Linked DNA regions of Homo sapiens: all the other regions are linked to region 1. Evidence: fine-mapped expression QTL. A gene starts in region 1. Each other region holds a variant in brackets. All regions are shown on one strand. Distances are between the middles of the regions. Region 1 holds the start of AOAH (acyloxyacyl hydrolase). Region 2 overlaps AOAH (acyloxyacyl hydrolase). Region 3 overlaps AOAH (acyloxyacyl hydrolase). Region 4 holds the start of AOAH-IT1 (AOAH intronic transcript 1).

Region 1 (8,108 bases):
ATTGGTTTGGGCAAAGACTCTTTGGGTAAGAACTCAAAAGCATAGGCAATAAAAGCAAAAATAGACAAATGAGACTACATCAAGCTAAAAACTTTTTGCATAGCAAAGGAAACAATCAACAGAGTGAAGAGACAATCTGCAGAATGGGAGAAAATATTTGTAAACTACCTACCTGACAAGGAATTAATAGCCAGAATATACAAGGAGCTCAAACAACAGCAAAAAACCTGATTAGAAAATGGGCAAAGGATCTGAATAGATATTTCTCAAAAGAAGACATTCAAATGGCCAACAGGTATATTTAAAAATGCTCAGCATCATGAATCATGAGGGAAATGCAAATCAAAGTCACCCTGAAATATCATCTCACCCCAATTAAAATGGCTATCATCAAAAAGACAAAAATAACTGATGCTGGTAAGGATGCTTTGAAAGGGCACTACTAGCACACTGTTGGTGGGATTATAAATGGTACAGCCCACTATAGAAAACAGTATGGAGCTTCCTCAAACAACTAAAAATAGATCTAATATATAATCTATCAATCCCACTGCTGGTTATGTATTCAAAAGAAAATCAGTATGTTGGAAAGGTATACTGACATACTTTGTAGTATAAACCCATGTTTATTGCAGCACTAGCCACAGCAGTCAAGGTATGAAATCAACTTAAGTGTCCATCAACAGATAAATGGATAAAGAAAATGTGGTACATGTACACAATGGAATACCATCTGGCCATTAAGAAGAATGAAATCCTGTCATTTGCATCGACATGGATGAAACTGGAGGTTATTATGTTAAGTGAAATAAGCCAGGCACAGCAAGACAAATACTGCATGTTCTCACTCACTTGTGGAAACTAAAGAAGGTGATCTCAAGGAGGTAGAGAATAGAACGATAGATACCAGAGACTTGGAAGGGTGGGAAAGGGTGAATAAAGAGAGATTGATTAATGGCTACAGAAATACAGTTAGATGGAATAAGTCCTGGTGTTGAATAGCACAGTAGGGTGACTTTGGTTAACAACAATTCATTGTATATTTCAAAATAGCTGGAAAAGAGAATTTTAAATGTTTCCAAGACAAAGAAATGATACATATTTGAGATGACGGATATCCTAATTACCCTAATTTGATCATTACACATTGCATGCACGTATTGAAATGTCACATGTACACCAGAAATATGTACAGTTATTATGTAGCAATTTTTAAAATCTTGATTTAAAAAACTTCCCCCAAAATTTCAATGCTACTTGAGAAGAATAATGTGAATTCATTGTCAGCTTCACATTCATCTAACAGTTAATATTATGTTTTTAAATTCATGTTGTCTCTCTAATTCTCACAATTTTCTTAAATATTGACATTATATGCCCTATTCTATAGTAAAATAAACTGGTATTCTGAAAGGTGGAGCAGCTTACCCAGGGCACACAGCTACTAGGAGGGGAGCCCATGACACAGGCCCCCCATCCTAGCCCAGAGCTCTTTTAATGAGCCCCCATGCATCCTCAGCATGGGTTAATTTACCCTGTCCTTAGCAGACAGCAGAACAGAATAGAATGAGGCTAGCGTTAATAAGCTCTGACTGAGGAGGAGGGGAGCAGCAGAGGGCCTGGTTTTGGTAGATGGGAACTGAGGACTGCTGTACACAGTCCTGGGCAGCCAGGAGTAACAGGGCAGCATGGACCTGGGCCTTAGAGAGAGGAGAAAGTCTAAGACGAGACACGTGTTGGTGACAGTGCCAGCTTTTACAGGATCTCCCATCACCCACCTCTTTTTTTTTTTTTTTTTTTTCTGATTAAGGAACTTGCTGTGGATGAGGTGGTTGAGGCCAATGTGGTCAAAAAATATTCAGGAAGCATATTCATACTGAACAAGCAGACCACAGGTGCAACACTTGGGGATCACAAAGCCTTAGCCTTCCATGGCACAGGGGAAAGCAGTGGTTTGAATCAGAGCTGTTTGAGTGAAATCAGTAACAAAGTGCTTCAGGGAAGAAATCTCATTTTCAAGAGCAGATTTCGAGATGATTCAAAATTGGAACATCTGACAGTGGGGTCCTGCAGGAACATTCTCCAGGGCCTGACTAGTTGTTCTAAACCACAGGTAGGTCCAGGGCCTTTTGGCAAGCTGTGCAAAGATCCCAAGTCATTTGCACTCAGTACTTGATGAGCAAAGGCAGCCCTGTCAGGGGCAATGATACCAGCCAGTGTGAAGGACAACTGTGCAAATGGGAGGGTCCACTCCATCCTGGTGACGGAGAGGGATGTTTTGTTCAGTGGTCTGTGCACACGTGCACTTTGTTCCAGCTTCTGCTGGCGAAATCACTTTCTGATTTCTGCATTCTTCCTTTGATCATGCCCAGTAAGAACTCACCCTCCAAGCATGAAAAATCCTTCCATTACTGAAAACCTATGTGTCAGGTTTTACCATGATATATTCCTACGAAGTAGATAGTCTCACCTCCCTTTTCTAGCTGAGGACTGTCACCTCTGGAAACAGGAAGGGGCTTGCTCAATACTGCACAGCTAAGTCAGCGACTCCCACTGTGACCAGCCCCGAAGCCTGAGCACACTAGAGAGTTTCAGAGCCGACCATCCCTGGGATGGTTGTGAATGGCACTGCCTGGCCCACATACATGCGATGAAGGGCACAAAACTTGCATTTCCGGCATACCAAGAAATCCCTCTCACTCTAAGAGTTTCCAGACCTGCTCGCAGCTATACATTGAGACCAGGAGAGCCTCAAGAGGCCCAAAGCCTGTGTCAAATGCTCTTCCAGAAGCCCTCAGGAGAGTCCTCACCCATTTATGGATTAGACAAACTAGACCACACACTCCTGGAGTGCTGTAGCACAGCTGGAAGGTATTCAATAAATCCTCCCTTTTCCTGTCCTCACCATTTCCCATGTATGACATGATGGCCTACAACTACCATGGGCGTCTTGGAATTCTCTTGAAGCTGGTCTGGGGTGCAGGTTTCATCACACTCCTGCTAGAGTCATAGACAGATGCACTAAGCACTTACTTCTTGCCAGCCATGCTGCTTTGTTGTTTGGATACATCATGTATTCGAGTGCTTCCAGCAGCGCATTGGAGCGGATATTACCATTATCCCAATAGAAATGAGCTACTTGGGAGGCTGAGGTGGGAAGATCACTTGAACCCAGGAGGTCAACACTGCAGTGAGCTGTGATCACACCACTGCACTCCAGCCTGGATGAAAAAGCAAGGCCCTGTCTCAAAAAACAAACAAACAACAACAACAACAACAAAAACAAGACACTGAAGGGGGGAAAGTTACATCACTGGTCTAATATATTACTCAGAATAAACAGTAGACATGAGACGTAAGCATGAGCCTTTCTGTCTTCACAATCTGAGTTCCTAATCAATCAGTCCTTTATTTAGCCTCCCTTGGAAGTCTCTGGAACTTCTCTAGGCCTCACCCCTGTGGTGGTCCTAGTGACCCCAGAGCTCCCCTTAGTCACAGAGTGAAGAACTGAAGCAGCAGCACCTTAGAGTCAGAGGAAGTCACAGGCCCATGGACGCCTAACGATATCCTCAGTATTGGGCTGGAAGTGTAATTAGGGAAACACTCTGACTTGTGCTATCTCTGCAGCAGGTTTGGGAATTGTAGCCCCATCGGTGCTTGTAAGACTAATGACTGCACAAGAAATCTTCCAACCATAAAAACTGGTATTTCCTACATCCTGGAAAGGATGCTACTCTAAAACTTTGCCTGCTACTCCAAATGCTATTTTTTTTAATTGCTAACAATTTAGATAGCTTCTATAATATTTCAAAATTTGTAATAAGCTCCCTCAGAGCCTAAGCAGAGAGAAACAGAATCTCATGACCTCCTACACTTACCTAGACTGTGGTACTTTGGCCCTGTCCTCTTATCTTGACTGAGAATGGCATATGATTTTGTTTTATCTTATTTTAGAGAGAAACATTTAGATTATATGTCTTTTATCTATGATCTGGTTCCGATTTTTTTTTTCCCTCAGAAAGACAGTGTTCAGTTCTATTCTTCAGAGCAGAAAATCAGTCTCTTAACAAATCATCCACAAAATGCACTTCGAAATTCTGGAGAAAAAAAAGATGCATTGTGCACAGCCTAGCAACTGTGAATTGATTAATTCTAACCCATGTTTTTTCTCATTAGGTCTAAAATCCCACCATGCTAACTGCCCATTATTTTCTGTACTGTTTATTTTCTGCACACCAAATAAAAGGCCTTGACCCTTCAAGGAATAACCCAATTTCTCCAGAGGAAAGATATTATTTGACCAGAATATCCTTTTACAACAAAATAAGGATCACAACCTTACCATATAAAGCTGTTGAAAACAAGACTAAGTAAGTTCTGAATGTAACCAATTAGAATTTCTACAATATGTGGGTGCTGCTGATCAAATTGTTAAAGGGTTGTGTGCTTGTGGATTAGTTTTTTTTTTCTTTTTTCTTCTCAGTTTTGGCTTTAGTATCGTTTTGTTTTGTTTTGCAAGAATGAAAGGGGAAGGGCCTCCTAACCAACCCAACAGATCAGTTCCGGCAAGCCTCGAGGCTCACGGGGTTTATGCACACTAACTTCACTGAGCCAGGGAGCACGGAAGTTGTGCCACTGTGCAACTTGGGTTTTCTTTATCCTGCAGTCTTTACCTCAGCAGAACCGCACACCACAGACTCCCTCCAGCTCTTTGTGTGTGGCTCTCTCAGGGTCCAACAAGAGCAAGCTGTGGGTCTGTGAGTGTTTATGTGTGCTTTTATTCACTTCACACTTATTGAAAAGTGTGTATGTGAGAGGGTGGGGTGTGTGTGTCAAAGAGAGTGAGGAAGAGAAGGAGAGAGAGATCAATTGATTCTGCAGCCTCAGCTCCAGCATCCCTCAGTTGGGAGCTTCCAAAGCCGGGTGATCACTTGGGGTGCATAGCTCGGAGATGCAGTCCCCCTGGAAAATCCTTACGGTGGCGCCTCTATTCTTGCTCCTGTCTCTTCAGTCCTCGGCCTCTCCAGCCAACGATGACCAGTCCAGGCCCAGCCTCTCGAATGGGCACACCTGTGTAGGTATGCAAATAAATATTTTTGTATTTTCTATGTAGACATAACAATGGGATCCAGTACTTTGCTTGCGTAATAAATCACATATTTTATTAAATCAAGAATTGTAAGATTCCAGGTAAGGCACCAGTAACCTCACTGACACAGAGAAATGTGGAGTCTAAGAGTAGACATTGACACTACATACATCTATGTGAATAAAAAGCATACTAGTTTAAATTGGGCATAAAACTCTTCCACCTCATTGGCGATTGGAATTTTTTCTTCTTGTATAGGTAACTATTATTTCAGGCTATTTTAGTCTGAAATTTTTACTGCTTTTCATGGGCTTTGACCTCATATAAACACATCTGAGTTTGAATCACTGCCCTCCTCCTACCCTTCTCTCCCATTTCCTACTGGCTGTGGAAACCTGGAGCAATGTACTTAACCCTCTCCATGCTTCTGTGTCCTTATTGGTGAACTGAAGTGAGTGAGACCCATCTCATAGGGATACCATGGAAATTGTGACCATGCATGTAAATCTGTGGCATGTGCACACAGTAAGGACTCAACCATCTTAGCTTCCTTCCGTCTCTCAGAGAATCCAGATTTGGCGATCACCTGGAGACGCTGAGCGTTGATATGGCTTCTTGGCTCATCTGTTAATGAAGTGTTTTATTTCCAAGAGGTTTTTTTTGTTTGTTTTTTTTGGATGAGAGCAGGAAGTAAGGTAAGATCTTTGATATTCACATTGTAGCTCTCATAACATGGGAATTCTCATAATAGTGGTGGCATTTAGATGGTACAGTCCATGGAGCCACATAGACTCAGAACTCTGAGTAGTAAGTAATTGTTCAATGAGCAGACCTCAAAATACAATCCTAGCTTGAGAAGCCAGGAAAATAACTCTAGGATAAGTCTGATGGCTACATGCTGCAAATGGAAAATCTGGACACAGATTCTGACACTTAGGAATTGTTTCTGGAGACAATATGGAAATATATCTGAATTTGTCCTACTTCCTCAAAATCATGGCCTCAGGTCATTGTACATGTTAGGAGATGCATCTCTACTTCCAAAGTCCTTTTTTTTTTTTTTTTTTTTTTTTTTCTGAGATGGATTATCGCACTGTCACCTGGGCTGGAGTACAATGGTGCAGTCTCAGCTCACTGCAACCTCTGCCTCCCTGGTTCACACAATTCTCCTGCCTCAGCCTTCGGAGTAGCTGGGATTACAGATGCACACCACCACACCCAGCTAATTTTTTGTATTTTTAGTAGAGATGGGGTTTCCCTATGTTGGCCACACTGGTCTCGAACTCCTGACCTCGTGATCCGCCCCCCTTGGCTCCCAAAGTGCTGGGATTACAGGCATGAGCCACCGCGCCCAGCCTCCAAAGTCTTGTTTTAATTAAGACCCAGATTCCCCAAGACTATTTTCCAGAGACCTGAAGGCAGAGGTGTGTGGTCCTTTGAACCATGCCTGGGAGATCATCCTCCCCCAGTATTTGGTTTCCTTAAATAACTATTTGCCACCTTTTCATTTTTCTCAAAACAAAACCCTACTGCCCATCAAATGGAAATACACTTGAGAAAAGCTCAGATGAAATCAGTTTTACTTCTGGGCTCATTGCAAACTAAATGTTTGAGTTTGGGCAAGTTGTCAGGGCTGAGATCCTTGGACCTTCACTTCAGTAAAATGGACAGGAGGTACACATTCCTTTCTCTGCCCTGTTCCCAGTGAGGTCATAGAGGGTAAGAAGGAGGTGTTGGGGAGATTTCAGGATGGGGTTGCTCTGGTTTTTCTATTATTGCTGCATCAAAAATTACAATAATAACCATTTGTTGTATTATGATTTTATGGGTGAAAAATTTGTTCGAACACTGGCTGGTGATTCTTCTTCTCCATGTAGGAGTGACCGAGGTTAGGAGGTGGTATTCGGATGGTGGATTGATGGATCTGGGACTGACAAAAACAGCTTCACTCACATATTTGGCACCTTAGGGGTGAGGGAATGGCTAGAGGGTTGGCTCATCTGGGAGTGCCATCAGAGTGCCCACACATGGCTATCTTGGGTAGTAGGCTTTCTTACCTGGCAGCTTAGGAATCCCAGAGAGAATTCCAAAAGACAGGAATTAGAAGCTGCCAATCTTTCAAGTTTTGGGTCTGGAAACAGGCACAGCATTACTTGCCATCTTCCATTGCTCAAAGCATTCACAAGTTCCTCCACCCAGACTCAAAGGGAGGGGGCAGAGACCCTTCATTTTGATGGAGAGGGTCAAGAAATGTGTGGTCATCTCTATCATTCACAGAGGTTCACTTTGGTTGCCCATACAAATTCTCATGGCCCCAAGGGCTTGGAGACTCTGTTGCTGATTAGGTTTGAGGATGATTTAGCATCCATTTTCCCAGCAACTCCCAACTTCTTCTGGTTAACTCTGCCTGGGTGACTTATTCACCTGTTGTCATAATAGCAAGAAAGGTGGGTGCAAGAGGAGTCCAGTCTTGTGATGAACACTTACTGAGCACTGCCTATGTGCTGAGACAGGGGCTGAAGGTGGTCCAACTTGGTGCTTCACTGATTGAAGTTGGCTTTTGGGGGAGACAGGATTAGAAATGTGTGTGCAGGGGAGTTTATTGAGAAGTGCTCTTGGCAAAAAGACGAGCAAGAGAGGAAGGCAGTGGGGTTGGCAGAGAGAAGCCGGGCTGTGCTGCAGCCATAAAAGAAGTCCCACTGAGAGCTCTGGGACTAAAATAGCTCTTCAGAGTTGTCCTGAAGTAGGTGCAGGTCTTGGAATTCCCACATCAAACAGTCCCTCGATGTGACCTGACCACAGGGGAGGGCTGTAATTTTGAGACATCTCCCGTTGGTGGAGACAGTTCTGGCAAGGGACTCTGATGCTGGCATAATCCTTCAGACCAATGGCTCCAGAAGCTGGGGAGCGAGTGTCTCCTGATACGGGATCCTGGGGTGTACCTGCTGGAAGGGTTGTATGTGGGAAGCATCTCAGGAAGCAGTGAGGTCCGCTCTCTCGCAGCTGGTGGGAAGAGGAA
Region 2 (8,108 bases), 140 kb after region 1:
ATAGCATAGTTATTTTTTTCTCCTACAGGTGGACATCCAACTTATATCCAGAGTATCATTATTCTTCGTAATGCTGCAATGAGCATTTTGTACTGACTCTTTGGAATATGTGTGAGGATTTCTTAAGAAAAAATTATTGGACCCAAATGTTTACATTTTTAATTTTAATAAGGCCTCCAAATGGGCTATACCAATTTATATTCCCACAATTAGTATATGAGAATATTTGTTTTCCCACACCCTTGCCAATACTGGATATTGTTCATCTTCTTAATTTTTTCCACTATAACAACAACATTGTATTGTTGTTCTCACTTGTAACCTCCTGACTACTAGTGAGTTTGAGCATCTTTTCACAGGCATCGCCCGTTGTCTTTGTCCTATCTAGTCGCCCTCTGCCCATGCTGCAGCACCTACCCCTCAGGGATCATCCCCCAGCCTCTCTGTCTTCAGCTACATTTCTTTTTTATACCCCTCCAGACAGCCCCTTCATACTGACCCCCCATCTAACTGGATGATTATTTTCTGAGATCCTATCATGTCCTTCAATACCAATGTCACCTCACTTATAATACCTGTTTACTACTTGTCTCATGCTCCACCTTCCCATGCCCAGACTCTGAGCATCCTGAGTATGGGAATCAGGTGACTTCATTTTGTAGCCCTCTTACCTGGCACAGTACATGACACATGGCAGGTGCTCAATAAAAGAATTGCTGAACCAGCTCATAAGGATATCAGTTTGCCCATGTAGAGTGCTTTACAATCTGCAAACCTCCTTCATGTGCATTTTGTCAGATTATCTAAATCAAATAAGATTTGTTGGGATTAACATTTTGGGGGAAATAGGCAAAGGAGTATAGCTGAATTAGCAACTGCATGATGTGATATGTAAAAATATGTAAAAATAAATCAGCGTAAGTTAAACCCTTGGAATTCTAAGTGTGTCCTATAATAAGTATTCTGCAAGAAATTAGCAAAATTAATTAAAATATTAAATCACACAATTAACATTAAAATATTAGCCATATGTAATCAACAAATAGGAGAAAATGAATTTAAAAGAAACATCAATTCAGTAGCCAAGTGGAAAAAATGAAATAAAGAGATTTGCTAAGAAGTGAATTTGGCTAATGATAAGTCAAACCTTGATGTGAATTTTTGCCCAGAATGATGTAATTTTGCAACCCAGATTAATCAAAGTAAATGAACACTCTACAGATTTCTCTAGTAGAATCGTTGTAACCAACTGAACTTGAGATTTTAGGCCACCTCAATGCTTAAATACAGATCACAGAGATAATTCATCAATATTCTTCATAAACTCTTCTGCGAAATATGAGTTCCACAAAATGTTAAAGGGTACTAACACACATTTCTTAAAAGACGTGTTAAGTCAAATAAGTTTTGGAAATGTTAATTTAAATAAAGGGAAACAAGCTTATTTGGTATAAGGCTTATTATAGCCTTCACTATGCGAAAAAGCATTGTATATCCTCAAAAAATATAAAACATTCAAAAATATATAAAACATTTCCTAAACTTATTTGACCACAGAACTATGTAGAATTTGTGTGTGTGTTTTATGAGAAAAATTCAAAGAAACTGGTGTTTCACAGAACATCCTTTGAGAAATGCCGTTTAGGTCATTAAAACCATCTGCTATGTCACAAGTAATCTTTTCAGATGTATAAGCCTCCACAGCCTTAAATGTCTCCACTTTATCACAGTTTAATGTTCACCCTAATACAGTGGCCTAGAATCAAATCTGGGGCTGGGAAAGGCCAGGATGGAGAGAGCTACACCTGCTTCAAGCTCAGAGAACAGGAGGGGAGGAAATCTTAGTGAGAGGTTAACCTAACAGGTAGGAAGCCTTGTCTGAGCCCAGCAGCTCATGAATTATTGAACACAATGCCTATGAAGTCTTTTTCCCTGTACTATTTTTCTGGTCCAAATTCAAAATTTATCATGCTGTCCTGCTAATCTTTTTGTATGTGAACTCCTAGGACCTCCTCTGTAGCCATCCTCACCTCTGCATAATTAGCTTATTGCCAGTCTCTCTGAGTCCACGGTGAGTCATATTCTGTATGTTTATCACTCTCTGAGGCTACATCTTAGTTGTTCTATGATGTAGTGAGTTAGGGGTTACACAGAACTCTGGGATGTGGCTAATATCAAAGGACTGAAAGGAATCTTAAAAGGTCTTTAATCTATCTCCCTGGCCCTATGCTGGCCTGACCTCCATCCACATTAGAAAGAAAGTTATCCACCCTTTTCTTAAATTTTCCTAGCAGAAAAGGTCCCTGGATAAAGCCTTAAAGCCTGTCTAGTCTCTAAGTTACCCAAGTTTATCCTAATTTACTCCCCTCCCTAACTCTTCACATCAAATATCCCCAGGTATTTCTCACCAACCCTACTGCTGGAGCCTGTTTTTTGTAACTTATTCCCTAAGATTCAACTTAATGGAGACTCATAATTTATACCCAAGCAAGCTGTGCCTCTGGACAGAGTCAGAAATTGCCTAACAAGAGGATCACCTGAGGTCAGGAGTTCAAAACCAGCCTGACCAACATGGTGAAACCCTGTCTCTACTAAAATTACAAAAATTAGCTGGGCATGGTGGCATGCGCTTATAATCCCAGCTACTCAGGAGGCTGGGACAGGAGAATTGCTTGAACCCAGGAGGTGGAGGTTGCAGTGAGCCGAGATCATGCCACTGCACTCCAGCCTGGGTGACAGAGTGAGACTCTGTCTCAAAAAAAAAAAAGACACTGACTAAGAAATTTCATCAGAATATGCTACATCACTCTTGCTTGAATCATATCACATCTGGTTTACCTCAGAGATCTCTGGCAGGCTACAAAGCCTTTGGAAGAACTCCATTTTTGCCTCTCTCCAAATAGGTTCTGCCTTGAGTCAACATGGGAGGCCATCTTTTATTTCATTTTAAATCAACCTGTTTAATTTGTCTACATTACTCTTGAGGCCCATTCTTGATATTACTCTGTTTTGTTCTACCGAAATGCAGTGGGGGAAGGCATTAGGAAGCTCTCAGAAAAAGTGATTTTTTTGTGTTCCCTGAGCCAATGTTGGGAAGAGTAACAGCCATTCTGTTTGAGTTTTACTCATTTTGAATTACGGTGCTAGAAATCAAAACCCAATCAGTGTGTTTTCACATGAAATGCCTGTACTGCCAGGCCCTCCAGTAGAAGGAGCTGGTGAAACTGGAAAGTTAACGTGACTCACTTCCATGCCTATGCCTGGAGTTGAGGATTCAGTTCTGTAGGCATTGGGCAAAGTGTGGAGAAAAGAACTTTTAAGTACCCGTCTTGTGCATCCCTCAACTTACAAGCCCAAAAGCAGTCACCTCCTCCTAGCACATTGGACCGGATTTTGATATATACAACAGAGCAGAAAGAGAAAAATAAAAGATCACACTGGAACACTGGATTTTTGTGGAGAAAGGAGAGCAAGAGGAAGAGGATTTGAGGCCAGAATCATCATGATAGTTTAGCCTCATTATGCATAGCATCCTAGTAGCCTCAGCTTGTCCTATGACTACAAGCTCAAGACCCTGCATATATATAATTTTCTATTAAGCTATC[T/C]TCTCAATTTGCAGGCATATCAAAATATTATATTGATCCCACTATATACTCAGGATTTCTGAGCACTCCTTGAGAAATGCAGTTCCTAAAATATATAAGAGAGATTATAGATTCGGGATGGGGATGAAAGAAAGCAGTATCTTTTACTATGTGAAATACTTTCTAGTGCTTGGTACAAGGCTTTCATCCCAAAATTCTAGATGCTATTTCTAGTCAGAAATGTTATTAGAACTATCTCCTATTGGTAAAGATTTCTATATTCTTATAATGAAAGGTGCAACTAACTGTATCTATAATATTAATACCTACACTATTTACTCTTCATGAGCAGGACATGAGCAAAACAATATTTTGGTATATAAATTCCATTCTCAGAATGATCAAAAATACATTTGTGACTAAATAGGTAAGAATTACTTTCCCAAAGAAAAATAACCCCTCTTTATTGACCATAAAATTATTTTAGTATCAAACTCAGATCCAGTGTCCATTTCCCATCTGTTTTTCCAAAATATAATAAAATACTCAAGGCAGAGGGCATAAGTGACGCAGTGTATAAGGTATCCATTTCAGGCTTTTGAGTAAGATAGCAGATTGAACACAAGCACTTACATCTCTCCCTTGAAAAGCCCTACTCTAACGACAGTAAATGAATTTGTCCAAGAGGACGAAGAGAACAAGAAGAGCCAACAGCCACAAAACGTTGGAAGCTAGAAATCAGACAGATGAATGGTAACTGACTTAGTAGATTCAGGAGAGCTGCATCCTAAGCTGGTTGGAGGGAATGCCAAGAAGCAACCCAGTTCACACTGCAGAAGCCCCAGAAGACTTGGGGATTGGTTACATGTGGGAGCTGTAGAAATGCAGGTGAGGCTAAACCAGAAGTATTGGTTGGAAGATTGCTGAAGAGCAGTTAGCTCCTCAGACCCCTTCCAACTCTCCACAGGTGGTCAACTGCCCCTCCCATACTCTGGAATAAGACTAGAGCTTTATTCTCTGGAAACACTAAAGTCAAGGGCCTCTGGACTGGAAGACACCAAACATAAATGAGGAGAGGAGTATCCTACGGAAACACATGAATGCTAAATGTTGAGGACCCTTCCCTACATGCCCCAGAGTGTTGCCAACCCAGCCTGTACTCTCCTGGCTGCAGACTAGAAGATCCTTCCCTGGGGAATCTGAACAGCCCAAGAGGAGAGTCCCACAGATGCTGACAGCAGGGTTCCCCAAGAAAGGCCCAGACAGCTCATCTTGCAGTGAGGGCTGTAGTCAACAAGCACAGCCAGGGGCCCAGCTTCCAATCAAAATCAATTAGCTTTTTAGCTGGCAACTAGTTTCAACATTTAAAAATAAGCCTATAACCCAGGATCATCACACATCTGAAGGAAACCTCAAACATGAAAGAAAATACAGAAACAAAGGGGAAAAAAAGCAACTTAGAGAAACACAGACTATGTACTAAGGGGGATAAAACTTTTTAGAAAGTTTAATAGCCTACATATTAAAATAACTGAAATTAATATCTTCAAAAAGATAAAAGAATTCTATAGCAGACAAGTGCTTCAAAAAAGGATAAAAGAAGATGTTACATTCATAAAACAAGAACATTAAAATTAAAAAGATATTCAGAGAACCAATAAGGTCATTTGGAAATTATTCTGGTAATAGCAGACGACATTCATAGAAAGATTAAAAAATAAAGTTGAGGATATTATCCAGAAAATGGAGAAAAAGGTCCATGACATGAAAATAGGACAGAGAAACAGGGAAAATTACAAGACCGGTTCAGATGACCCAATAGTTGTAGGGAAAAAAGAGAAAGGAAGAAATCATCAGTGAAATAATTTAAGGACATCTCTCAAAACTGAACATCATGAATTTCCAAGTTGAAAGGGTTTATCAAAGGTCTAACACTATGAGTAAAATCAGACACACACCAAGACTGCCATCATAACATTTCAGAACACTTGGAATGAGGTGCTACCATAGGCTTTCAAAAGATCAAGACACAGAGTTGCTTCATACTTAACAATGCTGGGGAGGCTAAAAGCCAAAATCAATCAATTCCTTCAGACTTGTGAGGGAAAAATATCATAACTGTGATGGTTAATACTGAGTGTCAACTTGATTGGATTGAAGTATACAAGGTATCGATCCTGGGTGTGTCTGTGAGGGTGTTGCCAAAGGAGATTAACATTTGAGTCAGTGGTCTGGGAAAGGCAGACCCAACCTTAATCTGGGTGGGCACAATCTAATCAGCTGCCAGCATGGCTAGAATATAACCAGGCAGAAAAAATGTGCAAAGAGAGACTGGCCTGGCCTCCCAGGCTACATCTTTCTCCCATGCTGGATGCTTCCTGCCCTTGAATATCAGACTCCAAGTTCTTCAGTTTTGGAACTTGAACTGGTTCTCCTTGCTCCTCAGCCTGCCTACAGCCTATTATGGGACCTTGTGAGAGTGTGAGTTAATACTAAAAACCCCCCCATATATATATATATTCATTCCATTAGTTCTGTCCCTCTAGAGAACCCTGACTAATACCTAATACAGATTTATGTTATTGTTGTATAACAAACTGCCCCAAACTTTCATGGCTTAAAACAATAGTCGTTTTATTATATCTCACAATTTGGGGGGGGCGGGGTTCAGGAATTCAAGCAGAGCTTGGCTGGCCAATTATTCCTCTCTATATGAAATTATGGTTACTCAGTGACATCACCTAATGGCTGGGCTGGGCTGGGCTGGGCTGGAGAATCCAAGATGGCTTCACTCACATGATGTGCCTGGGAAGGGACAGCTGGCAAGGCTGAGTTCAGTTCAGCTACATAGGGCCATTTTTTTTTTAAGCAGTTTTAGGCTTATGAAAAATTTGAGGTGATTGAAACATGGAGGCGGATTTCTCACACATGGTTAAGCACCATCCCTGTTGGTACTGTCCTCAGGATAGGGAGTGAGTTCTCATGAAATCTTGTCATTTAAATGTGTGTAGCACATTTGCTTGTTCTCCTGCTCTGCTTTTTCCATGTGACATGCCTGTTCCCCTTTTGCCTTCTGCCATGATTAGAAGCTTCCTGAGACCTCCCCAGAAACAGATGCTGCTATGCTTCCTTTACACCCTGCAGAACCATAAGCCAATTAAACCCCTTTTCTTATAAATTACCCAGTCTCAGGTATTCCTTTATAGCAATATGAGAATAGACTAATACAATGATAAATACTTAGAAAATTAAGGAAAGAAACAAAAGGCAGTTATTAACTCTACAGAAATAAAAAAGTTAGAAAGAAATTAGAAAGCAATCATTGATTAGTTGTCAATAGCTAAATCCTCTTCTAGAGTAGGAAGTGAACAGATAATGTCAAAGACTAACAATCAAGAAGTAGCCTTAAAAGTATGTTACTTAGAGATGAGGAGAAAAACATCAAAAGACCTAGTCAATTAAGGCTGGAATTAGTTGCCTATGGAAATGGAAAAATGGAGAGTGGAGGGAGGTGTGGGGTTGCTATTTATCATCACAAGTCTTATATACACACATAGGTAAGTTATTTGGTTCTGTGAGACTCACCACCTCAAGTCTTTGTTGATTTTAGCTTCTCAATTAGACTTCCTTTGGCTACTCTAATTCTCATTTCCTTTCTTCATAGAATTTAGAACTTTCTAGCATACTCTATCATTTGCTTTTTTATAATGTTTAGTTCTTTTATTGGCCTTTTCCTGTTGAAATATCAACAACACAGAAGCAGGGATCATGTATTTTAATTTTCCAATATAACTCAGTGCCTAGAATAATACTTGGAATGTAGCAGGTGCTCAATAAGCATCTATTAAGTAAATTACTTTTTAAACTATGTGCATGGGTAGCTTTGATTTTAAAAAATAAATACATTATTCATCTCAAAATTCTACTACAAAGCAAAAATCTCACACTTAAAATATTGCTCAGGCATCTTGGTCTTGTATTAAAAAACACTATCATTGGTTTTCTCAGACTTCAAAAAAGGGATACTATTTTCTATGCATCCTGAATGCCCAAACATAATATATGCTTACCTTTCTGAAGCACTGAGACAGTTGCCAAGCACTGTAATACAATTAGTAAGCTTTCATATAACACTTAATAATTGGTGATTGTATGTAAGGTTGTGAGATGTGAACTTATTATAATGAAAAGAAGATACAATACATTTGAAGATTACTCAAATATTTTGAGCTAAGTTATTATTTTTTAGTTTACATCTGGTCTTATTTCAAAGATTTTAGGAAGCCTATGAAAGTTTAGAGAACATAACATTTAATTACATTTAAACTAAATTTTGTTGCATTAATTAAACTACTTACATCTATATTAAGCGAAAGAAAATGAAAAATCAAAGATGAGACAAAAAGGAGCCAAGAAAATGAGTTAAAATATATATAATTATAGCCTGATACTGGTGTCAAATTTTTCCGTAAGCTCTGTGTTTATTAGTATTAGATTCAAGGAACAGAGATTCAACATATATGA
Region 3 (8,108 bases), 71 kb after region 1:
GCTGTTCTAGGCCTTCACCCTCTGCCTCGGGTCCCCCTCTCCAGCCTCTATCTCTGCAGATGACCCAGAAAAGAGGGACAATGGGTATACACATGGACAGCTTCACCCTCCTCTGCCTCTGAGCTTCCCCTGAATAGTAGTAACTGACATTGACTGGGCACTCACTTTGGGCCCAGTGCTGGTGTAGAGGCTCACACTTGATCTTGTTTTGTTCCCAAGCAGGCCTAGGTTGGAGGTGTCATTTCGACTCCTTTTTACAGTGGAGGAAACTGAGGGTTAGAGAAGTTATGTGACTTCCTGAAAGTCACTTCCCGAGGAAAGAACAGAACTGGGTTCACACCCCGGTTGTTCTACTCAGAGATTGGTTGAGCTCTAACGTGGTGTCAATGTTTCAGAAACTCCCCTGGGGTGTCTTCTTACAACAGTCAGCTGAAATCCTACCACCAGAAACAACTGATGTCGAAATGTGTGTTTCCTTTTAACTTTTCAAATAAATTATATTGTATTGAGAATTTATTTGAGAGTTATGATAATGCATATACAATTTTATACCCTACTTTGTTCCCTTAACATTACATTTTGAGCATCTAGTTTTCAGTGGTATATAGCAGACCTTTTTATCATTCTGCAAATCACTCCTACGTAGCACGTATGAATGCTCAGGTGGAATTACCTACCTGTTAGGGACAAACTGCCCCAAAAAAGCTTCTTGGTACTGCCAACACCCCCCACCAAACCTCTTTGTGCCACCCCTCCCCTTCCCCCAAGCCTTTTTACATTTCGAAGCCCTTATCTAGGTGCCGTGGTGAAGTCAGCAGACTTTACCTATCAGGCCTTGCAGCAATAAAGCAAACCCCAATTACAAACCATCCAGATGGCACAGGGGAAGGTCGCACAAAAAAAAGTCATAAAAAACGTAAACAAACTTTACTTACATCCTTCGGTACATAAACGTCACAAGGTGATATGTGGCAGAGTTAACCAACATACAACCCCAGGGTCTCTCTCCCCCATATAAACCCCTCATTTTGTAAGCTCAAGACTGCCTCCTCTGTCTGTAGTAGAGCAGCCGGCAAGTTAAATAAAGGCTTGCCTAAACTTGGGTCTCTCTCTCTCGTCCTTTCTCTCAGCTGACCTAACATTACCTACTAAGGGCGGGTGAAGACACAAATGCAGACGTAGATAATGTTCAGCCCTCCAGAAGGAATTCTCATGACTCTCCTAGTCAATAGTCCCCAGAGTAGCCACTATTCTGAAGTCTATCGCCACCGGCTAGTTCATTTTTAGGAAACTCTATCCTTGAATGTCGTATCAAAGGCCTCGCGCGGTATATGCTCCTTTGTGTCTGGCTTCTTCCACCTGTGAGTTTCATCCCGTGTTGGGTGAACAGCATCATTTCATGTAGAATTCCCCCAATCATCTTTTGATGTAGCTCCTGCACTACTGTCCCAGTGAGTCCAACCAAATCTGCTCTTTCCTTCTTTCTAATACATTTTTTTCCACATTGATGCCACAGATGCCTTGCTGTAGGAAAAATATGACCTTCCACCCCAGCCCAACCCTTTGCCTGGAAAGCAATTTCTCACTCTGTCCTTCCACTTGGTGGATTATTCCTCCCCATCGTTCATGGCTCAGCTTACATGTCACTTCTTCAGGGAGGCGGGCCCTATTAGATAGCCCTCTTATCATAGCTCCTGTATATTCCTTTCTTGAACTTGCCACTTTACAAGATATATTCCTGTGTGACTGCCTGCCTGTCTCTACCACTATCCTCTGAACTCCAGGAAGGCAAATTCTGTCTTGTTCACCACTCTATACCCAGTGTCTAGGACGGTGCCTCACACATACCAAGGAAATGTGTATTGACGCAATGAACGGGTAAAGTGCCACTAGCTTCTCATTTGCATCCCTGATGGAAATTCTGACTTTCCTCATGTGAAGGCCTCACTGATTTTCCCAGGGCATACTTATGATCCTGAACATAGTTTGGGATCTCCACGTTGCCTACACAACTAAGTACAAATTTTCACTTAGCTTTTCAGGACCTTCCAAAAGCCTTTCCAGACTTGCCTTTCCCTCTTAGGTTTGTGAATCCTGTGCTGCAGAGAGCAGCAAGTGACTGGCTCTGCCTTGAGCCATCCCCAACCCTCCCACCCTACACCTTGGATCTTCATCATTCCCTCTACCCAGATCACCTTTATCAACTCCATGCCATCCCTCAAGCTCATGTCAATGGTCACCTTCTCTGTAAAGTAATTCCTAACTATCCCAACAAAATGTTAACTCTCCTTTGAATAATCATTGTAAAATAACTGTTTGAGCACTTATAATGTGCTAACATTGTTCTAAATGCTTTATGTGTATTCATGCATTTAATCTTATGGAATAGGTATTGTTGTCCACCCTTTATAGATGACGAAGGTGTGGCAGAGAGACATCAAGATACTAGTTTCTAGTTTCGTAGATTTCCTCACTAAGATGCAAGCACATGGGGGTGGGCAGGCCTGTACCTTGCCTGTCTGTCTTTGTTCTCTCCACCATGCCAGGCACATACTTACTTGGTATATGGATAAAAATGAAAATAGCAGAAGTTGGTATTTATTGATGGCCTGCCAGCCGCTGCACTTAACGTGCGTGATCTCATTTAACTGTGCTGTTAGGTCCATATTTATTTTACAGTTGAGGAATTTTGAGACTTGGAGAAGTTAAGGGATTTTCCCAGGCTATACAGCTAGTGAGGAATACAAGAGGATTTATCTAGGGTCTGTTTTTCTTAAAAGTCCAAATTCTCATTCACCGTGCTCTCTGCCTCACTGAGACTCCGTAGGTGTTGTCACATTGAATGGAACCACTGCTCCTGGGCCAGCTAATTCCTCATAAGCAGGACTCTGCACGCTCTATGTCTGGCTTTTCACACATTTCAGACTCTAGTACAATATAAATAATGTGACGCAAGCAGTCTCCCCTGTGATATACATGCTGCAGGGATGGAGAGGATGGATGGGCCCCTCTGTAGCAGGGAGCTCATAGCGCAGAAGCAAGCAGAGCAGAGCAACAGAGATCTGGCTTCAGTGAGGCCAAAAGTTAAAGGTGGAACTGCATTTGGGGCTCACAGTGAACCCCTATTCATCATCTACAGCCCACCTGAAATTCCAGGCCCACTTCTTGCCGGTCCTGTGGACGTGTCTCCCTACCACTATCTACTGTGTGCTCAAAAAGGACAAACTTCATCCATAACTAATTAAAGCAAGAAAAATCTACGATGTCCCACTGGTACAAGAAGAAGAAGAAAAAGGAGAGAGGAGAAAAGGAGGAAGAGAAGAGGGACAGGAAGGAAAGGGAAGGAAAAATAGCTGCAGGCCTCACTGCAAAGACCACCCAGGTGGTTTTGTGTTACGTATCTTGGGAGTTTATTTTTACCGCTCCTCTCATTTGCACATGAAACAGCGCATTGATTGCTGCTGCTGTGTGTGTGTGTGTGTACGCACACACGCACAGGGATGCATGCACGTGACTGGCTCTCCCTTGAGCCCTCCCCAACCCTCCCACCATGTCCAAAACCATGATTCTAACACCACAGCTCACAAATTGAAAACCGAATGCAACTTATTCGTGTGTATCCAGTGGTTCTTTAAAGCTCT[A/G]TTTTTTGGATCAGAATGTTACATTGCATGAGCCCCTGCTTGAGCCAGAAGCATCCTGGAGCCTCCTTAGCTTTAAGCCACTCCCGTTTGGGTCCCTGAACTTGAGATCTCCAGGCAGACCTCGTAGCTTTGAACTGACTCCTTTCCTAACCACAGCAGTGCTGGAGGAACATGCTGCATTTACCAACATCTCCAAGGCACACTCAAGACTTACTTCAGCCACTTTGATCTACATTAAAAGAGAATCATATTCAGAATGTAAGCCCTGTGTGGAGAGAGGTTCTCCTTATTTCCCTGGGGCCTCCTGAACTGCTGGGTGGCAGGGAGACCTGCTGCCTTAGGAAAGCAACCCAGACTTTGAAACAGCTTTTCCCACAGTGAGTTGCATTTCTACAAGAACCAAAAGCTCTCTGATGCTGAGTGTGGGGGAGGGTGTGTATGCACAGGGAATCATATTTCCCTGGAATCCAAACTACCAGGAAAGTGACATAAATGGGTTTGGCAAGAAGTAAATTTTCACTCTTTATATGAGAAAGTGACGCATGACAAATTATGTTTCGCCTAAGCAATAAACAAGCTGACCTCAGGAATTCACTTTTATTTTTTAAACACTAGGTGTCAAATAAAATACCTGGCATCTCTTTTAGTAGACTGTCTCAGGTGGTAGTGTTTAGAAAAAGAATCACAGATAGACAGGAAATTGGACACTTCCTGAGATTCTGTAATCACTAAATTTCATTCTGCACAATCCAAAGAACCTGATGCTCATAATGCTGTTTTTAGCCCTATGAGCTCACAGCACACTGTCACATGTGTTATTGTCTAGTCTCCCCCAAACTCTGTTATTTCAAATAAACGTTTTTTGGTAATAATTTCAGATTTATAAAAAGTTGTGAGGATACTGCAAGAGAGTATACTGTTCACCCAAGTTTAATTCCCCACAATGTGAACACATTACTATTACTTAGTCAAAACTAAAGAAGTCAGTATTACTACTGTATATACCTTAGTAGCAAATCAAGTCCAGACTTTATTTGGATTACACATGCTTCTCCTCTAATGTCCTCTTCTGTTCCAGGATCTAGTCGAGGACACGCATTGCATTTCTTTTTCATGTCTCTTTAGTGTCCTCTGGTCTGTGACAGAGTCTTCATCTTTCCTTGTTTTTCATGACCTTGGCAGTTTTCAAGGATACAGGTTAAGTACGTCGGTAAAATGTTCCTCGAATTGGGATTTGTTTGATGTCTTCATCTTGGTTCGACAGTGTTAGGGGTTTTTGGAAAGAACACCACAGAGGTGAAGCACCCTTTTCATCACATCCTATCAGGGTTAAATGATGCCACATGGCATTGCTGGTGAGATCACCCTTCATCACTCGGTGAAAGGGTCATTTGCCAGGTTTCCCAACTGCAAAGTCACTATTTTCCCCCTTTTCCTTTACTCAGTTCTTTAGAAGTGAGTCTTTAAGTCCAGCCTGCACTCAGTGAGGCCAGGGAGGACCAAGCCCCTGCTCCCAGAACATGGAATATCTACACATATCTTTTGAAATTCTTCTATGTAAAAAACATCTCTCTCCTCCCTAATTTATTGAATTAGCCAATCATTTATTTATATTAGCACAGATTCATGTATACGTATTTTATACTTTGAGTTATAATTCAAATATACACTATTTTATTGCACAAATTTTTCCAGTTTTCCAGTTTTGCTACCATTGGAAGCTTAGGGTGGCTCCTGTGTCCTTTTGACATGCCTCTGTCCTATTTTTTTTTTGTTCCATACTACTTTATGTTCTGGTACTACCAGATGATCCAGGCTCATCTTGTTATCTTATATTCTTCTGCCCCTGTCCTTGAATCAGCATGTCCCGAAGGAGACCTGGTTCCTTTTACTGGAAAATGGTATTTGGAAACCAAGATCTGGGTGCTAGGTATGCCCATTGCTACTGGGATGTCATTGCTTATTGGCCTTCTTAGGTCCTGGTCTTCTTTGTGGAGTGCTAAGTAAAGTATATGTGTATACAACCCATGTATACACAAATACCTACAATTGTTACTGTGTCTGTATGTGTGTCTCTGTGTGTGTGTATGTGGATGTGAGCTCATACTGATATCTCTAATTTTAACCCAGTATCACAGGTCAAACTCTATTTTATAGGTAAAATTATCAAACATATTTTGCAGTTGAGGCTTAAAGCCTTTACTCAAAGCTCATAAGTAGTGAGTGGAATCTGAACTCAACCCAGGGCCCTGGACTTTAGACCTCCAGCTCTTCACATCAGCACTGCCTGTGTTTAGCATAGATTCTGGAGCACATTCAGAATAGTCACTTCTCAGAGCCAGAGGGAATTAAAGGCAGCTTTAGTTTTAGTTTTCATAAAATATCATAAACAGCTTAATTTTCAAGAATCTTGCACAATATCCCAACTTTCTCAGTAACAATGAAACCACTGACATGTTCGCTTACTTAGTCATACCTCAACAAACATTTCTTGAACACTTACCATGTACCATCCCCACAGCCGGGTACCCTAATAAGTTATCTTTTTTTAACTATCCCAAGTCTGTAGGACAAATATGATTCTGTCATTTTATAAATAAGTCTACTGATACCTAGAGAACTGAGAGACTTTCCTGAAGTCCCATACTTTCTACAGAATAATTGTTTTTCTTTTTATCAGCCAACAAATATTTATGTAGAATAAATTAAGTAGAACAGTATTCCAGCACATATGGCATGCGATAGCAATGTAAATGGATATTCTAGCAGGAGGCTATAGACAAACAGTGAGGAAGAGAGAAGTGCTGTCACACAGGGTGCAAGGAGGAACAGAAACCCCAGCAGACGAGGGCTGAGCTGGTCCTGGAGGGAACAGGAGTGGAGGTGACTCCTTCAGGGTAGAGTAGAGTTCACCCAGCACACTCCACCTCGCCTGCGTCAGCCCCTTGTGCTGGGCCCTTTCCCTAGAACTCCCAGTTCCCTGCATGGCCAGCGCCTTGTTCCCCTGCTGGTTTAAGTACCCCCTCTCCAGGAAGACCCTCCCTGACCAACCTCTCTGAAGAAGGTCCCCTTTCCTGCTCTCTCACACCACTTTATTTCTTTGATACCGTCTGAACACAAGGACCGTGTCTTTCTTGCTCACCATCTTATTCCTGGACTGGCATAGTACCTGGCACATAGTAGGTGCTCTGTAAGATTTGTTTAGTAAAAAATAGGATGAGAACGGCAGTCCTGAACATACCTTACCTTCTCCCTTGTGAGGATGTATCTGGTCTCAGTGGACTATATGAGAGTTCAAAGCATTCGGCTTCTTTGAGAATGTGAAGCAGTTTTCAGAAATAAACATAGGGTTCATCCCAGGGCGCCTGCTCTGGTATTCCTGGGTAGGGTTTGAGCATCTGCATTTGCATAACGCTTTTGACGAGCACTGAAGGGTGAGAACTGTTGTGCTGGAGGCTGGCCTAAGCCTGAAAGCTGTCATTGACAAGTCTGAAAGCACTGTCCCTTCTCTTGCTTCTCACCTCCCACACATCCAAAACCATGCATCCCCACTTGCCCTCTAACTGCATCCTTTTCCCCAACCATTCCTTGATTTCTACCCCTTTTCTGATTGATTTATCAACTTAACCTCAGCTATTGGGTTTCCAGTCCCCAGCCCCCTAGGAATAAGGCCTCTTAGAAAGACAGAGAGAACTAGAAGTTTTAGACCCAAACTATTTGGAATTCATTCTTTTTCTACGGATTTTCTCAAAACAGTGTTCTTGTTACCAAGGGGTCCTTGCTCCCAGAGCTCCCAAGACGGTGGTGGGCCACTTCCAAGACGGTGGTGGGCCGCTTCCAAGACGGTGGTGGGCCGCTTCCAAGATGGCAGAAGCCACTTCCAAGATGGTGGCAAGCCTCATGTTCTCTGACCTGGGGTTCTTGGCCTCACGGATTCCAAGGAATGGAATCTTGGGCCATGCAGTGAGTGTTATAGCTCTATTAGAAACCATGGGTCACAGAAGAGAACCGTGGAACCCAGTGACTAGTGTTCAGCTCGATTAGGATGAATCCAGGCATTTAGCCATGCAGGAACAATGGTGAGTCTTTAGCCCAATGGAGAGCGGCAATGGGCGCCTCACTGGATCAGGAGCACAGCGGACACCCTGCCAGATCTGAAGAGATGGAAGTTAGCGGTAGGTCTGCCACGGCGGCAAACAGCAGTGGTGGACAGCAAGTGAAAGCTCAGCTCAAGTCGTAACAAACACAGACCAGAAGAGAGTGCAATTGCAAGATTTAATAGAGTGAAAACAGAGCTCCCAAACAATGGGAGGGGACCCAAAGAGGGTATCCATTGCCGGCTAGAATGCCTGGGTTTACATCCCGATCATTATCCCTCCTGCTGTGCTCTCAGGCGATAGATGATTGGCTATTTCTTTACCTCCTGTTTTTGCCTAGTTAGCATTTTAGTAAGCTCTCTTTCCTACC
Region 4 (8,108 bases), 130 kb after region 1:
AGGTGTGAATACTTGTTCTTTATTAGAGGGAATATCCAATCTGATACATGGTAGTTGCTCTAAAGTGTTTGTAGAAGGGAGAGAGGGAGGAGAGGAGGGAGGAAGGCTGCCTCACAGAGTTGTGTAATTGAATTGAACAATTTGTGCAAGTTTTTCCTGTCTCAGTGCCTGGCACATAAGGGGAACCCCGCATTAGTTCTCTTCCCCACTCTCGCTTAATGCAAGTTATCTGGGAAACAGCACATCCAAGCATCATGAGTAGGTTAGACATTTATTTGTAGGACAGATTCATGCAGCAGAGGCTACAGAAATGGGAGTCTGGCAGGAAAGTGTGTGTGAAAGCCAAGGAAGGCTCTGAAAGTTGCATAATGTGGTGCTCCCACAAGAAAGGCACTAAGGTAATGGGAGCGGTGGGGACCTGAGCAGATGGGAGGCAGTGTGGTGGCACGGTGGGACTGAGAGGCAGAAAGCAGGAGGAACCCTGCTTACCTTCTGCAAGCGCCACTGCAGGACAGACGGAGGAGGAGCCAACTAGCGGAACTGGGAGACCCATGGTTCCAACGCTAAGCAGGTAGCCCTTGTCTTTGATTCCCGGGCCTTGAAACTCTCCAGCGTTATTAAAAATACCAACCCAAGAGCTATTTTCTTTTTTTGGTAAAGTAACAATCCCCCATCTGCTTTGAGACTTTAATTCTGGGGAATGGATAAAACAATGCTTATTTAACTGGTGATGACATTTTTTATCTTTTTCCAACAGCAGTTACTTAGATTCCTCCAAGTGACTTTGTACTGTTTGAAAATAATCCATTCAGGTCTAATGCAGGTACATGTAATAGAAAAGGGAATATACTGTGTAGATTGTCCACAGCAGTGCAGGATGGAGAGAGCCCAAATGTAAACAGTGAAGGAAAGGCACTGAGGATACTCCCTGCTTTGCTGGAAGACTGGCAGAATCAGATGAATGAGGGATTGGTGTCATTACTCTCTTTCTCCCACACAACAAAGCTTTAAGAACATCAATTGCTTGCTGACATTAGGGCTTAAAATATTACCAAATTCGAATTATTGTATTTACTAAATATCCATCAAAAATGGGAACCAGTGGGCTTTCTCGATGCATGGAAATACACACACACATACCCACACACAGGGAAACGTTAAATGAAACTATTACACAAAATAGTAAACATGTGCCAACTATGCTGTAAAAATAAATATCTATCATTGATAAAGGTCAGAAGAAATTTTGAAGCAATGCGGTAGTGATCTAACACTCACTAGGTTGCTCACGCTCTTTAAGTTTGGAAAATTTTTCTTGGTAAATATTCAGTCTTTTTCACATATGTACATTTAAGGTACATTTAAAACGAGTTTCCTAAGAACATAAATGCTCAAGAGGAATAAGCAGGAGTTGATGAGGAAAATCTTAATTTGCATTCCTCCTGCCTCAAATGCCTGAAGTATCTTGGATATAATGTTGCGTGAATAAGGCTTTTAGTGTTTAATGTGATAGGACTTAAACATTCTCTTTTTGCTAGGGTCTATAAAACATTTGCTATTAATAGCCACTACTTTTCATTTTTATCTACCAAATTTACTAAGGAAAAAAAATATGCCAAGGCTTCTATTAGTGTGCTCAAACCTTTTCTATTATCTGGCAAATAAATGTCACTCCTCTTAAACCTGGGACAGTTCACTTGGAAAGGGACACTAGGTGGTCTGCCCTAAACATGATGCTTCACATAGTAGGGCTCTGACTTGTCAACCTGCTTCTGACTGTGTCTTTTGGTCTTCCTCACAGTTTTGCTGAAGTAAATAAGGTGATATTTCTATAGTCATTGGAGATACTGAAACTGAAATACATCTTCCCCAAGTTTGCACACTAATAACAGTAAAGCCTTGGCTTAACACCAGAAGTGAAGTCTAAAACATTCAACCAGGAAAGCACAGGTTTGCTATATTTTGAAGTTCATCGAGTGACCTGGTCTGCCTGGGCCTTCCAGGGCTCCCGCTGAGGAATACAAACTCACCCTGGCCCCAGTTGTGATTCAGCACCAGCCACTGTCCACTCCAGCTGAAATCCTAATGGGGATGATTCCAAGACTAACTAGTTTCTGAGATATCAGCAAGGATTCCAGGAATCTCCCAGGTAGCTGAGTCCCATTTCTTCAGATTAATCCACAGAGAACTGAGCTTGGAGAGTGTTAGCAACATGGAGATCCCACTTCCCAAGACAGGATTGCCTGCCGTTTTCCCACCTACCCTACCCCTCCTCTCGACATCCCCTCTTCCGCCACTGAAGACAAGAAGTTCATCACCCACCCCTGACCGAGAATGAGGGTTGCCGGGGGTATGGAACTTATTTCCAGTGGTGTCAGATCCAATCATGGAGTTTTCTTGATTTGTGTTTCTTCTTTGTATTTGTAGAGCCAGACGCAGAAGACAGATCATCCGATTTCTAGAGCAAAGCCCTTTCTCTACTTTGCTGGCACACTTCAGAATTATTTACCCCTCCCTTAGTGTGCCAGGCTACAGAGGGTATGCCTATGCCTGCGTAGTTCTTGTCTAACTCCTTCCTGTGAAAGGGAGAGCAGTCCCAGACAGAATCAGAAACCTAGTTCCTCATCCAGTTTCCCAAGTCTGGAGTTGCCATTGCACGGATGACAGAGAAAAAGGTGAGGGAGTGGGGTGGAAAAGAACCATATCATTCTTGTAAGTTTCAACGTGTTTTGCAGGTTACTGACTCAACACAGCTCATAAATTCTGCCTGCATCTCGCAAGCCACTTGCTTACTCACTATCTCTGCTAAACATATCTTGTGAGTTTCATCCATTCTATTTGTTTTTCTTGTCTTGTCTGGCAGAATGAATATTCTCATCCTACAGTAAACACACATTGTAAGCAGAAAGATGTAGGGAAAAATAAGATAAAACACAGAGAAAAGTTTTGCTTTGTAGTGGCAGGAGAAATAGAAACTCAAACAGATAATAGCTGAGTCACAGTAATGGTGGAGTCTCGAGCAGAAAGTGGTGGGTGCTGAATGCTAAGGGGTGACAAAGTACCTGTCACTGAGACTGCATGGTCCTCTGAGATTTACTGGGAGCTTTCTTTCTATGGGGTTGTTTCTGGTTTTTAAAGAGGATAAATCATCATTAATACAGGTGCATCCCAGGACGCCATACTTCCTGACCAACTCCTCCCTCTTCCAGCCCCTACCGTGCTGGAAATCACACTTAGGATAAGAATAAGGATGGAGGTTTCGTGGCATGTGTGGAAGGAGGAGGCAATTGAAGAAGGAGGAGCAGAGGAAGCTCAGAGACCCACAGAAAATATACAGGATATCATGGGATGACTGCTGCTGCGTTTGAACACATTTGTTTGTTCTAGGAATTATTTTGAAAGTAAACATAGTAAAGGGGTTCATGTCTTAGCCCTTTGAATAATAAAAGCAACAAGCATATTGTCCGATTCAAGCCATGTATTAGTTTCCTTGGCTGCCATATCAAAGTACCACAAGCTGGGTGGCTGAAAACAACGTAAATTGATTGCCCCAGAATTCTGGAGGCTGGAAGTCTGAGATCAAGATGTCAGCAGGGTTAGTTCCTTCTTGGGGGTCTGTGAAAACATTTATTCCATGCCTCTCTTCCAGCTTCTGGAGACAGCTGGCAATCTTTGCCATTAACTGGATTGCAGAAGCATCATTCAAATCTCTGCCTCCACCATTGCACGGCCTTCCCCCTGTGTCTTCATTTCTGTCTCTTCCTCCTCCTCTTCTTATAAGGACCAGTCATACTGGACTGGGGGCCCATCTTATTCCAGTATGACCTCTTCTTAACTAGTTACATCTGCAACGACTCTATTTCCAAACAAGGTCACATTCTGAGGTGGGGTTAAGACTTCAACACATCTTTTCGAGAAACATAATTCAACCCATAACAGTCCACAATTAAGAAATATAAATTTGCATTTTATTTATTTTGAGTGCTCATTCTCTATCTCTCTGAAAATAGGAGGATTGAGTTTTTCCCAGTTTAAAGATTTATGGTAGATTTCACGTATAAACTGTTTTATATATGACACAAACTGTTAACCGTGGTTATCTCACAAGAGTTATCTCTTAGGGGAAGGTGACGGGG[G/TG]GTGGGGGGGCTTTCATTTCTGCATTGTAAATGACTATAATGTTTGCATTTCTAAAACAAACCCATGTACTACCTTGCAATAAGAAAGAACAATGACATACTTTCAAGGAGTTAATGGCTTTTCTTTCCCTCGCAGCCTCTAGCATCAGAGTCTCCTTAGGAGAGGGATCTTCATGGATGAGGAAAAAAGCAGGAGGCCAGGGGCATGTGCCATTTGGAAAATTATGCTAAAGCTACAATTGTTTTGACATGCTTGTCTTTAGACATTACTTTATTTTAAATTTTAAAATAGCATTAAAGGAGGACTCAAGGTTTTCACATTTACCCGAAGGGAGCACGGATTTTCAATATTGAGAAATACAAAGGCTTCTTGCAGCCACTCATGGAGGCTTCCAGTCAGCGAAGGCAAAAAGGGAATATTGGCTTTTAAAGCTTTCATCCAAAGAAAGATGCCCAGATAAAATACAAGATACTCAGTCAAATTTGAGCTTAGGATAAATAACAAATTTTTCAAGTATAAGTATGTTCCAACCATTGCATGCATGAGACATACTAATCCAAAAAATTATTCCTTGTTTGCCTGAAATTCAAACCTAACTAGGCATCCTTTATTATTTATGTATGTATTTATTTATTTTTGAGACAGAGTCTTGCTCTGTTGCCCAGGATGGAGTACAGTGGGGTGTGATCATGGCTCACTGCAGCCTTGACGTCCTGGGCTCAAGCAATCCTCCTGTCTCAGCCTCCCATGTAGCTGGGACCACAGGCACATGCCATCATACCTAGCAAATTTGTTATTTTTTGTAGAAACCAATTTTAACTATGTTGCCCAGGCTGGTCTCAAACTCCTAGGCTCAAGCAGTCCTCCTGCTTCAGCCTCCCAAAGTGCTGGGATTACTGGCACAAGCCACAGCACCTGGCTGGTACCCTTTATTTTTATTTGCTAAATCTGGCAGCCCTATTCCAAACATACCAATTTAGATAAGCTTTTTCTAAAATTTAGACCACAGGAGAGATTAGTCCCAGAAGTCACTCATAAAAGGAGTAAAATGAGGTTGTAACTCATCACATTTTTCTTTGCTGATTTTGCACAAGCCATGGAAATGTGGTTCAAATGAATCCTATTTTTGTCAACACTTTGTATCAGGAGTTCTTGACAAATTGTGCAGGAGTTGCAGGGGGTCCGTGAGCCTCCTGAAATCACAGGCCAGGTTAAATACACGTGCATTTTTGTGGGGAAAGGAACCACAATTAGATTCTCAAAAATGTCTGAGACCCCCAAGAAGGTCAGAGGGCACCACCTTAATGCCTTAAGGCCATAGCTTTGAACCCAGGGAAGGCATTTTTTTCTGAGGGATTAGGCATTATTTTTCAGATTAATTACTTTTCAGATGATTGACTTTCTGATGGCCTAAACTGCAAAATGGAGAAAATCTCAGAAAATGTAAGAATGGGAAGTTTAGTCTGCTGAAGCATCCCTCCCAAGTGTTTGAGATGCCAAATGTTCTGCATGTTTCACAAGAGCTGAGCGGAAGCCAGGTCAAGGGTGGTGCTGATCATTGTGACTTCCCTGATGAAGTTGAAGGTTAGAGACATCTGCCTTGAATACCAAAAGCCCTTAAAGCGAGAGATTGAGAGTGGGAAACAGACACACAGAGAGCAACACTCAGGCCATGAATTTTCTTACTACCTTTAGAAAATAAATGACCATTTTGATAATTGCTACTTTATTGTTTTCCTTAGAACTCTTTCATCAATCTACCAACAGCCCTTACCAACGAGCTTGACTGGCCCCAACTCTCTGGTGCTACAGGATTTCTGGACTCCACTGTTGGGTAAGTGTCTTTGTGCACCCTCAGACATTTCAATACCTCTGTGTAAGGAAAGAACAAGAGATGGGGGTTGCTACCAAGATGTTGAAATGCGAATTATTAGGAACTGCTTCTAGAACATGAATTTGAGTTCATCCACCATACAGTAGGATGTAATGCAAATTGTATTTTAGCAGCACTGGCAAGAAAAGCATATTCCTGCTATGGGCAGGGTGGGGGTGGAGTTCCATAGTTTACCTCTGATGGAAAATACTAAACACATCACTGAAATTTTCTGATTCAAGGAAAAACAAAGTTTACTTATTTGTTCTCAGAAATAAATTTGTAAAGATAATGGCCAAAGCTGATTGGCACTTCTCAAAGTCCTAGAATCATCCTGGCTTTAATGCCCCAGATTTGTAGGTAGAGACCAGGCCTGGTGAGTTTGAATGACACACAAACCCAATTCACTACATATGCCTGGGTGTTAAGGCCTGGGGTCTGCTTCCCAGGGCCCACACTTGGCAGGGACACCTGTGATGCTGGTGAAACTTGGCAAGTGTCCCTAACATGGTAGTAAACCACAGATATGAGTCTATGGCCATCCCACCCTGAACACACCAGATCTTGTCTGATCTCTGGAAGGTAAGCAGGGCCTGGTTAGTACTTGGATGGGAGAATGTCACAGATATGAGAGGCAATTTCTCTCCCAACATCTCCTAAACATTTATGACAGTTAATAGGCACAAGGAAGATGGCAAATGAATGGCTTCCATGTGTAAAAAAGAAGAAAGGGTAGAGCTTTGCTTTTAGGTCTAAAGACAGGACAGAACCAGCTAGGAAGCCCCTCTCTGACTCAGGCAAAAATGGCAGAAGGCTGGAAAGCACCATGAGATAAGCCATGAGAACTGTGAGGAGGGCAAGTGTGCATGGGGTGTGATTTACCCAAATCTGTAAGGAACAGGAATGCCCCCAAAGGACAGACATTAATCATTTTAACAAGCAATTATTCTGATGAACAAAGAACATTGTGTGCCATGAATAATTTATTTGATGATTTTTATTCATCTGCTTTAAAAATATTTCTTAAATACTTAACCACCTAATCAGGCACAGATGTTACAGGTGTCCATTTAAAGGTAGATAGGGCTTGTCCCATCTTTGTAGTCAATTGCAATTAAGGCAGATGAGACAAGTGAACAAATAATGGTAATGCAAGGAAGATATACTAATGACAGGTCTCCTACAGAGCCACGGGGCTCCGAGGAAAAAGAGTTCATGGAAGTGATCAACAGTCACTTCCTTTGGGTGGGTAACACATGGGAGACTGGGGTCATAAAAGGGGCATAGAAGAAACTAGGAAGGGAACTAACCTTCAGGGAAGCGTACTCATATTTACATAGAAATAATCTGCCAATATAGGGAAAGCCAAGGAGATGTGTTTTCCAGTGTAGTTATACCTTTTCAAACTTAATCATGTTATTTTAAAAAAGGCTAGTCCTTGTCATTAGTGTAAAAATACTAAAATACTTACTAATAGGGATAGTAAGAAGTAACCTTTGAGAAGTAACAAGTAACTATATGCCAAGCATTTACTGAGTGTTGTATAGATATTCTCTCATTTAACCTCCTTGTGAGGTAGTGGGTATTGTTCTCTGCATTTGCAGTTGAGAGATCCAAGGGCAAATAGACAGAATAAGAATCTTGACCAAGGTTGCCCAGCCAAGAGTGGTAGGGTCTGTTTTCATGGAACCTTGTGTCATATCATAACAAAGATATGTTCTTGCCTCTCAAACTTTGTGTTGTTTTTATTCTTTGTGTGGGAATATGGCTCACTCTAACCATTGTCCCTCTGTGTGAGAGCATAGCTATGGGATGGAGAAATGACTAAGAACCAAGAGAAGTCCTCCCCATGTAGAGGTGTGGCCTGCACTATTTCAGTGACCCATCATATGCCTCCTTAGGGTCCCAATAAGCACAGACATCTGGGACTTTCTGAGTCCTAGCCTCAGTCCCATCTTCCCTCTGCTACAGCCTCTGTTGTCTTTACCTGGAACACATCCAGAGATAACCCAGCCAAAGCAGGTTTATAGAAGAGAGAACCTTGGTCATCCCCCCAATTTCAACATCAGAAAATAAAAAAATATATATGTTTAAATGC

The links. PIP is the estimated chance that this variant, and not a neighbour inherited with it, causes the effect.
Region 2: its variant is the best candidate, but not a certain one, in a credible set for the expression of AOAH in whole blood (TOPMed, PIP 0.76).
Region 3: its variant is the best candidate, but not a certain one, in a credible set for the expression of AOAH in whole blood (INTERVAL, PIP 0.84).
Region 4: its variant is the best candidate, but not a certain one, in a credible set for the expression of AOAH in activated naive CD4 T cells (Schmiedel 2018, PIP 0.90).

What each region holds. Positions count from the first base shown.
Region 1 is chr7:36,720,992-36,729,099 of GRCh38, reverse strand. AOAH (acyloxyacyl hydrolase) reads left to right here and starts at 4,606. Exons shown (of 21, transcript NM_001637.4): 1 at 4,606-5,078. The coding sequence starts at 4,952.
Region 2 is chr7:36,577,510-36,585,617 of GRCh38, reverse strand. The region is part of intron 12 of AOAH (acyloxyacyl hydrolase); the gene reads left to right. Among named protein-coding and RNA genes, the nearest start is that of AOAH-IT1, 19 kb to the left of the region's middle. The variant T/C (reference allele first, on the strand shown) is at 3,606.
Region 3 is chr7:36,649,503-36,657,610 of GRCh38, reverse strand. All of the region lies in intron 4 of AOAH (acyloxyacyl hydrolase), which reads left to right. Among named protein-coding and RNA genes, the nearest start is that of AOAH-IT1, 53 kb to the right of the region's middle. RefSeq lists an enhancer at 3,167-3,711. The variant A/G (reference allele first, on the strand shown) is at 3,642.
Region 4 is chr7:36,592,202-36,600,309 of GRCh38, reverse strand. AOAH (acyloxyacyl hydrolase) reads left to right here. Exons shown (of 21, transcript NM_001637.4): 12 at 5,880-5,971. It overlaps AOAH-IT1 (AOAH intronic transcript 1), which reads left to right and starts at 190. Exons shown (of 3, transcript NR_046764.1): 1 at 190-567; 2 at 2,004-2,149; 3 at 2,428-2,476. The variant G/TG (reference allele first, on the strand shown) is at 4,137.